Regions from separate parts of the Homo sapiens genome. Here regions 2 and 3 are each reported to be linked to region 1. Evidence: microRNA targets listed by miRTarBase, many of them from high-throughput screens and not tested one by one. Region 1 holds a microRNA gene; each other region holds the end of a gene's coding sequence.

Region 1 (3,000 bases):
AGCATAAAATAACTCTTGGTTCTTATCAGTTCACAGATGTGCTATTCCCCGATTTTAAAATTAAGGTATAATTTACATAGAGTAAAATTCATCCTTTTTTAGTATACAGTTCTGTAAGTTTTGATAATTGTTTAATATATAATGACCACTATAATCAAGATGTAGAACATTCCATCACCCCCAAAGTTTCCCTGTGCCCTTTTGTAGGCAATGCCTCTATCCCCCTCCCTCCCAGCCCTTGGCAACCACTGATCTGTTTTTTTATCCCTTTAGTTTTGCCTTTTCCAGAACACCCTATACATTGAATCATACAATATGTACTTTTTTGAGTTTGACAGTGTGGCTTTTTTTTTTTTTGATGTGCCATATTCAATAGCATTTTTTTTCTATTTGGAAGCAAAAGTGTTATTGCACTTACTTTTTAGAAGAGATTTCCAAAGTTGCATTTTTTTTGGAGTGTGCTTTTTATTTACTGAGAAACACTGGTTGATGTTTTTGACTTCTATGTTTATAGATAGCTTGAGAGTACCTAAGTATTCCCAAGCCTTTGCCTATACATACCCATTAAAAAATTTCTCCTTCTATGTTTCCTATATATTGCAAACAAAGTTAAATTACCTTTCAGAATATCTGAAATATATTTGTTCCCCCATTTTCGGTTCAGAGTTTTTGTTTTTTAATAACTATAACCCTTGAATGTGTGAATTTACTATGCCTCTTGGAATTTCCACTTAGCTGCTGGATTAACAACCAGTACTGCCATAATATGTTGAAATTTCTAGGAGGCTGAAATTCTGAGCCATGAAGAATGCAATAGAAATGATTAACATTAAAGCTGATGTCACCCCACTAAGGCTTAAAGTGGTATAGATATTAATAGATAATAAAGCATTAGATAATCTGAGAACAAGAGGGTTGATATTCCTACAAAGCTGAGAATTAAAGGATGCTTCAGAGAAAAAAAATTGACTTAAAATATTCCCTCCATTAGTGTCCACCAGTCAACTTTATATTGTTGAACATCAGGCCCAAGATCAACAATTGTCTACTTCCCATTTTCGAAGTAGTCAGTTGTTGGCCTTGAGTCTGATGTTCAACAATATAAAGTCTCAAGCTCTTTCCATCTCTCTGCTCCATTATTCTTAGCTGTTGGTATTTTTTTTGTTTTGTTTTGTTTTGTTTTGTTTTTTGAGACACAGTCTTGCTCTGTCACTCCAGGGTTCAAGCAGTTCTTGTGTCTCACCCTCCCAAGTAGCCGGGACTATAGGTGTGCACCACCACGCCCAGCTAATTTTTTGTATTTTAGTAGAGACAGAGTTTCACCATGTTGCCCCCAGGGTGGTCTCAAACTCCTGAGCTCAGGCAATCTGCCTGCCTCATCCTCCCAAAATGCTAAGATCATAGCTGTGAGCCACCGTGCCTGGCTAGCTGTTGGTCTTTTATCCTCATGCTTTGTTACTTCATGGTAGTGAGATGGCTGTTGAGGTTTTAGGCATTGTATTTTTGTTCGAGGTAGGAAGAAAGGGAAAAGGCACCGCTGATATGCTATCCTGTTATTTCTGTCCTTTTATATGTTAGAACAAGCATTTCCAGGAGGCTCTCAGCTGACTTTCCCTAATGTTGCATTGGCCAGAACTGGATTACTGCTAGCTGTAAGGAGAGGAGAGAAATTGAGTATCTATCCAAGGGAACAGAATTTGGCTTAGAAACGTGCTTCCTGACTGACGTTTTTCCCTTTATGGCACGTGTAGGAAATGATAACATTTGTTGTACATCCTGAGGGTGAACAGAATGCTTCTGCTAATCTAGGCCCAGTCCTTCTGCCCTGAGAGTTAAGGGGAATCAATATCTCGGCTATCTGTCATGTATTTGAGGCACATATTACTTGGAAATGTGACTGGTTTAGACTAACTAGACTAACAGTGAGTCATATCCTAGATTGGGCATATTGTTGTCCCAAAGAAAACAGGGTTCTGTTAACATATAAGAGGGTGGGAATGGCTATAAAGTAGGCAGTTAATAGTCTGGCACAGTAGCTGTTTGTTTAAAGATTATCTTCAATTTTAGAATATGCTGTATCTGGATTTGAATAAATACGTATTTGTTACTCTCAGAAGTCACCTTTTCCCCCTTTAATAATGAAACTTCTGGAATGTGGGGGAAATGGTTGTTCAGTGTATATAAAGTTTTAATTATCTGCTAAAGTTCTAGAAATCTTTTGTACAACATAATGCCTATGCTTGATAATACAGTATTGTGTACTTCAGAATTTGTAAAGAGCGTAGATCTCATGTTACATGTTCTTATTACAAAGAGCAACAATGGGATACAAGGAAACACTGAGAAATATTGCATGTGTCCGTTAACTTGATTGTGGTGATGGTATCATGGGTGTTTTCAATGTTCAAACTCATAAAATTGTACACATTAAATATATGCAGTTATTTGTATATCAATTATACCTCAATAAAACTGCTTAAATATTGTGAAAGAGGATTAGAGTTGGAAAGTTGACTTTTCTCAGGTATACTTTCAGCCTCACTTGCCATAGCTTGACTTCTATGTACAATGAGATATCCTGGGACTCTGAAAAGATAAAGTGAGGGGTAGGAAAGATCCCATCACTAAAATAAGTCAGGTTTATATATGAGAGACCAGAATCACACAGTAAACACTTTTTTGTTGTTGTTGTTGTTTGTTTTGTTTTTTCAGATGTAGTCTCACTCTGTTGCCCAGGCTGGAGTGCAGTGGTGTGATCTCAGCTCACTGCAACCTCCACCTCCCTGATTCAAGTGATTCTCCTGCCTCAGCCTCCCAAGTAGCTGGGATTACAGGCACCCACCACCACGCCCAGCTAATTTTTGTATTTTTAGTAGAGATGGGGTTTCACCATGTTGGCCAGCCCGGTCTCAAACTCCTGACCTTAGGTGATCCTCCCGCCTCTGCCTCCTAAAGTGCTGGGATCACAGAAGTGAGCCACTGCGCCTGGCCACGCACAAT
Region 2 (3,354 bases), not on the chromosome of region 1:
CAGGCAGCCATACAAGTTCACACACTTCTCCCTCACGCACCATTTGGCCCTCTGGACAGCCCGGTCAGATGGTCATTGTTGTCACTAGGACCAGCTTGTGGATAAGAAACCTCATCTCCAGGTGGTAACAGCAAAGCCGGCCTCCCTCAGGCCTGCAAAGGACCAACTCCTTCTGCAGCAGTGACTGTCTGTGACTTCTGCTTCCCTTCCTCCCTAGAAATGTGTCCAGTCCTTTTACAGTGTCACCCAGAACTTTGTCCATCTGCTAGGGGGCTGGAAAGGGAAGTTTCTGCCTCACACAGATGTTGGCTTCTCCTCTCGGAGGCGTCTTTTGTTCATGGTGCTGAAGGGTTTAAGGGGCAGAAGTGAAGGCATGTTTCCAAATCGGATGGTCTCTGGAGTGTGCTCCCTGAAGGACGGGGGTGGGGGTGGGAGAGAAGCTGAAATCTGTTTCAGAACCAATCCTGGGCTTGGGAAGCTTTTAGGAGGATTTGCTGCCCTAAATTAACTGTCCACCCTTCTTTCCCTCAGGTCATCTGTGACAAAATATTTCGCCATTGGTTTTCCGCGCCTCTCAAGAGCTCTGCGGTCTCTTTCCAGCTTCAGCTGCAGTTACAGGAGGCGGTGCAGGAATGTGCAGACCCTGGGGTCCCCAGTGGGAACACCCGGAGAGCAGCCTCCAGCGTGTTCTGGAAGCTTCGCCAACTCCTCCAAGCCACACTGAGGGAGCTGCAGGAGGCAGAGAAGTAGCCACTCTCTGGCCTTAAACATGCTCACACAGGAAAAGTGACCTTGGCTGGATTTCTTCTGCCATTGTTTTAAAGATGAGCCATTTCCCCTGTGCTCTCTGGGGTGCCGTTCTGGTCTCCACATTGTGGAGTGGCAAGTGCTGCTGCCAGAGACAGTGCTCCCTCGCTCTCGTCCCACCCTGGCCTCTGACCTGTCGCCTTGTGTAAAATGAGATGAGGGAGGAGGTACAGACCTCCCTTCAGGAGGGCTCTCGGTCAGAAGACACCAACCTGTGTGCACTTATTCTCTGCAGAGAGCACTTGTACCTGGTTATCCCAGCACGAGTTCCAGCTGTTCTTTCCTGTAAATCGTTACCACGTTAAAAAGTGTGCGTGTGTGCATACAAATGATGTGTATGCCTGTGTCTGGGTGCAAATGAGCATGTGAGCATGTGTGAGTGTGCCCATGAGTGTCTGCATGTGTGTGAGTGTGCACAGGTGAGTGTGCACAGGTGAGTGTGGTGTGCTCATGAGGAGTATGAGTATGCCTGAGTGTGAATATGTATGAGTGTGAATGAGTGTGTGCACATGAGTGCACGGGTGTCAGCATGTGTATATAAGTGTGGGCATGTGTATGTGATTGTGTGAGTGTGGGCAGGTGAGTGTGTTGGGGATGTGGGTTAGGGTGGGGAGTGGTGCTTTCTCTAGTGTGTCCTCCGGAACATCTTGCCTACCTAGCAAAGAAGTGTGACCATTCTTTCGGAATTAAATACAATAAAAAGAAAATAAGCTGCATCTTTAGGGAAGGGAATTTGCATTGGAGAGCGTGTGTAACGGCAGCTTATAGTATTTTTCATTTTGTGGAATCCACCAAGGTTATGGATGGGTTTTAGGGCGCCTCGTATTGCAATACACCTTCCCCTGGGCAGGGACTTGTAGGTTGGCTTGATGCAGCATTGTCTTCACCTTCAGAGAAAATTTAAAGTAGAGCAAATGCTGAGGTCTGCATTGACTCCAGGCAGGACCAGAGACCAGCACCTTTCTTTTGATGGATTGAAGACCAAGTGATAGGCATCAAATCCTATGGTGGCATGATACGCTCATCAGTGGTGATCCCAAGGAGGCTTTTCCAGCAAAATACAGGCAGGGGGACAGGCCAGGTGAAGCCAGTGAGCTTTCACTTAAAGGGACCTGGTTTCTACCCATAACTGTGACCCACGAGTGCTCAACAAACCAACGGGTCACCCCTTTTCAGAAATCCCATGAAAAGGGAAATCGAGAAAGATGAGAGAATCAGGAAGTCATGTTGGCAGTTTACACATTAAAGAAGACAAATTAATCGGACGTTGTGAAAGTCACAAACTGACACATTCCAAATGGTCTCTTATCTTGGCCTGCAGCCCCTTTCTAAACCAGAGAAACGGGAATGCCTTCTTCCAGACTTTGGGGTCACATTTACTGACTCTGCCCTTCAGGGCACGCTGAGAAATGGTGTGTGAGGGACTAGCATGATCAGAGGCCCCCAGCTCTAAATTCTGCCTTCCCCAAAGACCTGTTGGAAGGCCCACTGCCAGCTGTTATTCTTACCCATCACCACTGGGGATCTTCCAAATGACACAGAGTTCCATAGAGGGCCTCCTCATCATGGACATGAAGACTCGCTTTGCAATTGTATTCTAGCAAGAAGGAAAAAACCCATGTCAGTCACCCTGTGGCACGAGCAAATTAAAACCAAAGTTCAACGGCCAGGCCTAGGACTAGTGGATTCCAAAGGAAAGGGCGGGCTTCGGGCTATTGGGTGGAGGCTCCGATTTTCCCCAGAGCTGCGCTGGGTGCAATGCCTTTCTGTGGTGGTCGGGGCATACTTTGGGCCATGCTCACCTTCTAGGCAGGTTCTCTACAAGCAAAAAGGTTTACAGGAAGACGGGTGTGAGATGGAGGGGGGGAAGGAGGGAAGCCACCAGGGCTTTGCCCTCTGTGCCCTTTAAACAGTGGGGTTTCGCTCTGGGAGGTCAGAGTGGGTCTTTTGTGGGTAGACGCTGGGATGCCAGCCATTCATTAGTGGCCTGAGCTCACTGACCAGGCAGCAAAGCCAGCCTGGAAAAGAGAAATAGTTAGTTTTCATTTCAACCAAAATGGAAACAAATTGTTTTTGTTTACGATGGAGACTGTGCAATATATAATTATCCAACACAATTGTGGTTTTATTGCTGAAAGGGAGCTGTTTTATCTCTTCCCTTTATGTTTGGCTACACAGTTACACACACACACACACACACACACACCCTTTTCCATCCCTGCCTGGGAATTCCCATTAGAGCAGTGGCTCTCAAATTGTGGTGAAGCTCAGTTTTGTTTTTAATTTTGAAACCTTGCAAATCAATGCTTTTATATAACATAATAAATTAACACTGTGTATATCAATATTTAGTATTTTGAATATGACAAATCGGTTTTTTTCTGGCTGATCTAATTGAGCAACAACCGCACTCGTAGAGGAAAATGTCTCCCTAAATGATTTCTATGTTTTGTTGTAATAACACATAGTAGACAGAACACTCTCAGAGACATGTTGATGGGATCTGAAAAAGATTATAAAGTAAACTCATCAAGCTCAGGCTATTCC
Region 3 (3,354 bases), not on the chromosome of region 1:
CAAGTGACAAAAAAGAAACATTCTTTCTACAGAAATATATAGAAGACTCTTAAGAGGAACTCCAACTCTAGAGAAAATACCATCTAGGTCCAATAGTTTTGCTAACTGAACTGTTTATTTTTTTACTCTGGAAAGCTACAGATGAGTATTAATATATTAGGTTCAAAGTTCCCTATTTTTAAACTTTCCATATGAATATTACAAGACAATGGGGAAAACAACATTGCATATAATTGTTTAATTATAGAAAGAGTAGAAGAAATTCAAGGAAGAGTATTCACCTGACCCTAATTTTTTTTCCAGATAACTTCTACAATTGAAGACCCCAGCATTTTTGGCCACGTAGAAGAAATGCTGAAGCAAGCATAATGAGTTTGTCTTATTCCTATTTTGAGTTGATTTAATTTCTTAATTGAAATTAAATTATTTGAGTTGTTTCTCAGAAATAAATATTTCAGTAGAAATTACTTGCAAAATGAAATGTGAATTGTAAAACTTGGCCTAAACAAATCTAATGAAAACATGTGAAAGACCTGTGCCTTTTTTTTGGTTTGACCCTGTTAGCATTGTTATTAGTTATCTATAACATGGCTTATTGAATGTCATCTACTGCTTTAGGAAAAACGTATCTAGTGTATTATTTTTAAAATTGTACCTCCCAAGAAGAACACTTTAATTGAAAGCAACACTAATATAGAGCCACTTCCTGAAACCAAGAATCTGTAGTTTTGATCCAAAATCTAAAACTTAAAGTCAGAAAATAATTAAAATTTTTCTTGTAGAAATTTTAGATATTTTCTAGTATTCTTTAGATGCTCACATTGTTTTAAATAAAATAGATGAAATGGGAAGTTTAGGTAATCATCTAGACAGATGAAATTATTATCTAGGTAGGAGGGCTTTTCTATACATTTTCTGAGGGAAAGCAGAACACCGGGGTTATAGCTATACCTTCAGGTCTTTTGTTACTTAGGCAAGGAAAACCACATGTCTGACCTGGTTCAGCATGTAATCCGAGCACTTTGGGAGGCTGAGGCAGGCGGATCACTTGAGGTCAGCAGTTTGAGACGAGCCTGGCCAACATGGTGAAACCCTGTAGCTACTGAAAATACAAAAATAAGCCAGGCGTGGTGGCGGGAGGCTGAGGCAAGGAGAATCACTTGAATACAAGAGGCAGAGGTTGCAGTGAGCCAAGTTCCCCCACTGTACTCCAGCCTGGGTGACAGAGTAAGACTCCATCTCAAAACAACAAAAACAACAAAAAAACCACATGCCTGGCGGAGAACAAAGAGATCATTTAGTCCAATCTCTTCATGGAGATGAGGGCTCCTGGGAGCCCCTCTTCATGTCTCAGGTTCTTAGTTGACTATGTTTATCCAAATGATTCCAGATTCCTGTGGAAACAAGGAATCGATGTACAAATGGGGTAGGGTGGCAAGGAAAACTCTTAAGAGAGAAACATCAAGGTTTTCACATTAGGTTAAAGACAAGAAGGTTTCTAGGCAGGTAGTGTAATGTCTAGGTGATTTTGAAGTGAACTTAAGCCACTAGGTTTGAGGGACAAAGGACAGTAGAAAATGGTGAAGACTGCAGATCACCTGCTATACCTCAAGGAGCAGCGGACCCAGCAGAATATGGCCCAAAAAGGAGGCAGGTCTCCTGTTGCAAGAGCCTCTGTTTTTTTAAAGAGAAAACAAAGAATCCTGGTTTTTATGTGAAATCTCTAATTTTAAAATAATAACTCATTAAAAATATTGTAATGTCCAAAAGTATCTTTCCATTTAACTTCTAAAAATCTCTTAAATGTTTTTTTTAAATAATTGTAAAGTGAGTTTTTGTTAAGCTTATAGGAATGGGCCAGTTAACTAAGGTAGACAGATGTAGGAAATTAAATATTTGATTTACTTAGGGATCTATATGACATCAGTTATCAAAGAATACATTTTAACCCAAAAGTATACCATGCTCATTGTATCTTTGATCGTTCTTCAAGTATTTCTCAATCTTTTAATCTATCAGGAACATTACTATCAAGAGCAGATTGTTGTAACATAATACTCAGGATACATGAAATGTATGTGAGAGATAAATAGATAATAGAAAGTTTATTGTTATAAAAATGACCTACAACTTATATAAAAAAATTCTGAAAATGTTGACTTTTTTTGGACTGAAGACTGCAAAATAAATGGCTTCTCAAAGTAAATTCCTATTTACTTAAATTGCCTTCTTGATTGTTACACCTGGAAAAATATATTCATCTACTTTTTCCTTTTAATTATGTTAGTAGACTGAATTAAACCAGCTACATAGACACTCTCTCATTTGAAGCTGTTGGGATCCTTGAGTTGCCTCTTTCATTGGTACGTTTTATCCATTGTCACAACTGTGGTCTTCATTAATAACTCATTTTAATGTCTTAGGAGTAGAATGTGTTTCCTTATTTTTTTTCAAATAAGAGTCAGTTAATTTGAAATGGCAAATTATTTACCTGAATGTGTATCATTGTTCATTTGCAAGGTTTAAGCTCAGGCAGATCCAATAATTAGGTAAAGGTTGCATCTTTGGTCCTCTTGCACATTTTTTCTGGTAATCAAATCTGAAGCGACATCTCAGCAAGCAGACTTGGGTTATTTTCCACTAGGATGGGAATGGAAAACAGTGCTGGAGACTGGGGAAGTGGCTATTTCCTGTGTCTCACTGGGGAATTGCAAGATCAAAGAATGTTGTTACTTTTATGTGATGAAAAAATAGGGCAAGAAAGATATACCTGAATCATCAGACTGCTTAAAATTTGGGAGGAAAAAATTCTATTTTACTACTAACCATAAATCACTTTTGCTAGATAGTACTTTAAAGATTCTGAATTAAATGTATCTTTAAAAACAACAATATAATATTACTAAAAAATGCAGACATACTTAAACTTGCTAGAATAAATTCTGTGAGGTCTTCGTTTGGTATTTTCATAGGATTTCTTACTGTTAAGTTATTGGAAAATGAAAATATAAAGTGCTTTCAGAAGTTATAGTATTTTCCAATTCATTGAATTACTTTGCTTGTGAAAATATATTAAACATATTTAAATGAGACCTATCCTACATTTAAAAACCAGTTTTGTTTATATAAAATTGTATTTGAAAGGTCCTGAACATTAAAAATGTGAAAATTTATAATGTTGATGATCAAAAGTAACGTGTTGAGACTCTGAGCTTAATCCATTAAATGGATTTTAGAATCTAGTAGAAGTTATCTTTCTTATAAATTAAAACATATTTTATGCTTCTTTTTTGAGGGAAATACCTGGATCTTTTGCATCACTATATGTTAGTGTCTATTATAGATGATTAATCT

The links. Region 1 holds the annotated microRNA hsa-miR-7849-3p (GACAAUUGUUGAUCUUGGGCCU, at 1,025-1,046, opposite strand). A microRNA usually pairs through its seed, bases 2 to 8, with sites in the 3' UTR of a target mRNA and lowers its output. Matches are read on the target gene's strand: a 7mer-m8 pairs with bases 2 to 8, a 7mer-A1 pairs with bases 2 to 7 and ends in A, and an 8mer does both.
Region 2: the mRNA of DIPK1C is a reported target of hsa-miR-7849-3p. Seed matches in the 3' UTR shown: 8mer at 2,395-2,402.
Region 3: the mRNA of ACSS3 is a reported target of hsa-miR-7849-3p. Seed matches in the 3' UTR shown: 7mer-A1 at 486-492, 7mer-A1 at 648-654, 7mer-A1 at 1,819-1,825 and 7mer-A1 at 3,130-3,136.

Annotation. Positions count from the first base shown.
Region 1 is chr4:146,406,692-146,409,691 of GRCh38, reverse strand. It overlaps MIR7849 (microRNA 7849), which reads right to left and starts at 1,109; the gene lies at 1,004-1,109. All of the region lies in intron 5 of SLC10A7 (solute carrier family 10 member 7), which reads left to right.
Region 2 is chr18:74,433,897-74,437,250 of GRCh38, reverse strand. DIPK1C (divergent protein kinase domain 1C) reads left to right here. Exons shown (of 4, transcript NM_001044369.3): 4 at 532-2,476. The coding sequence ends at 750. Among named protein-coding and RNA genes, the nearest start is that of DIPK1C, 22 kb to the left of the region's middle.
Region 3 is chr12:81,254,554-81,257,907 of GRCh38, forward strand. It overlaps ACSS3 (acyl-CoA synthetase short chain family member 3), which reads left to right. Exons shown (of 16, transcript NM_024560.4): 16 at 304-3,354. The coding sequence ends at 369. Among named protein-coding and RNA genes, the nearest start is that of PPFIA2-AS1, 23 kb to the right of the region's middle.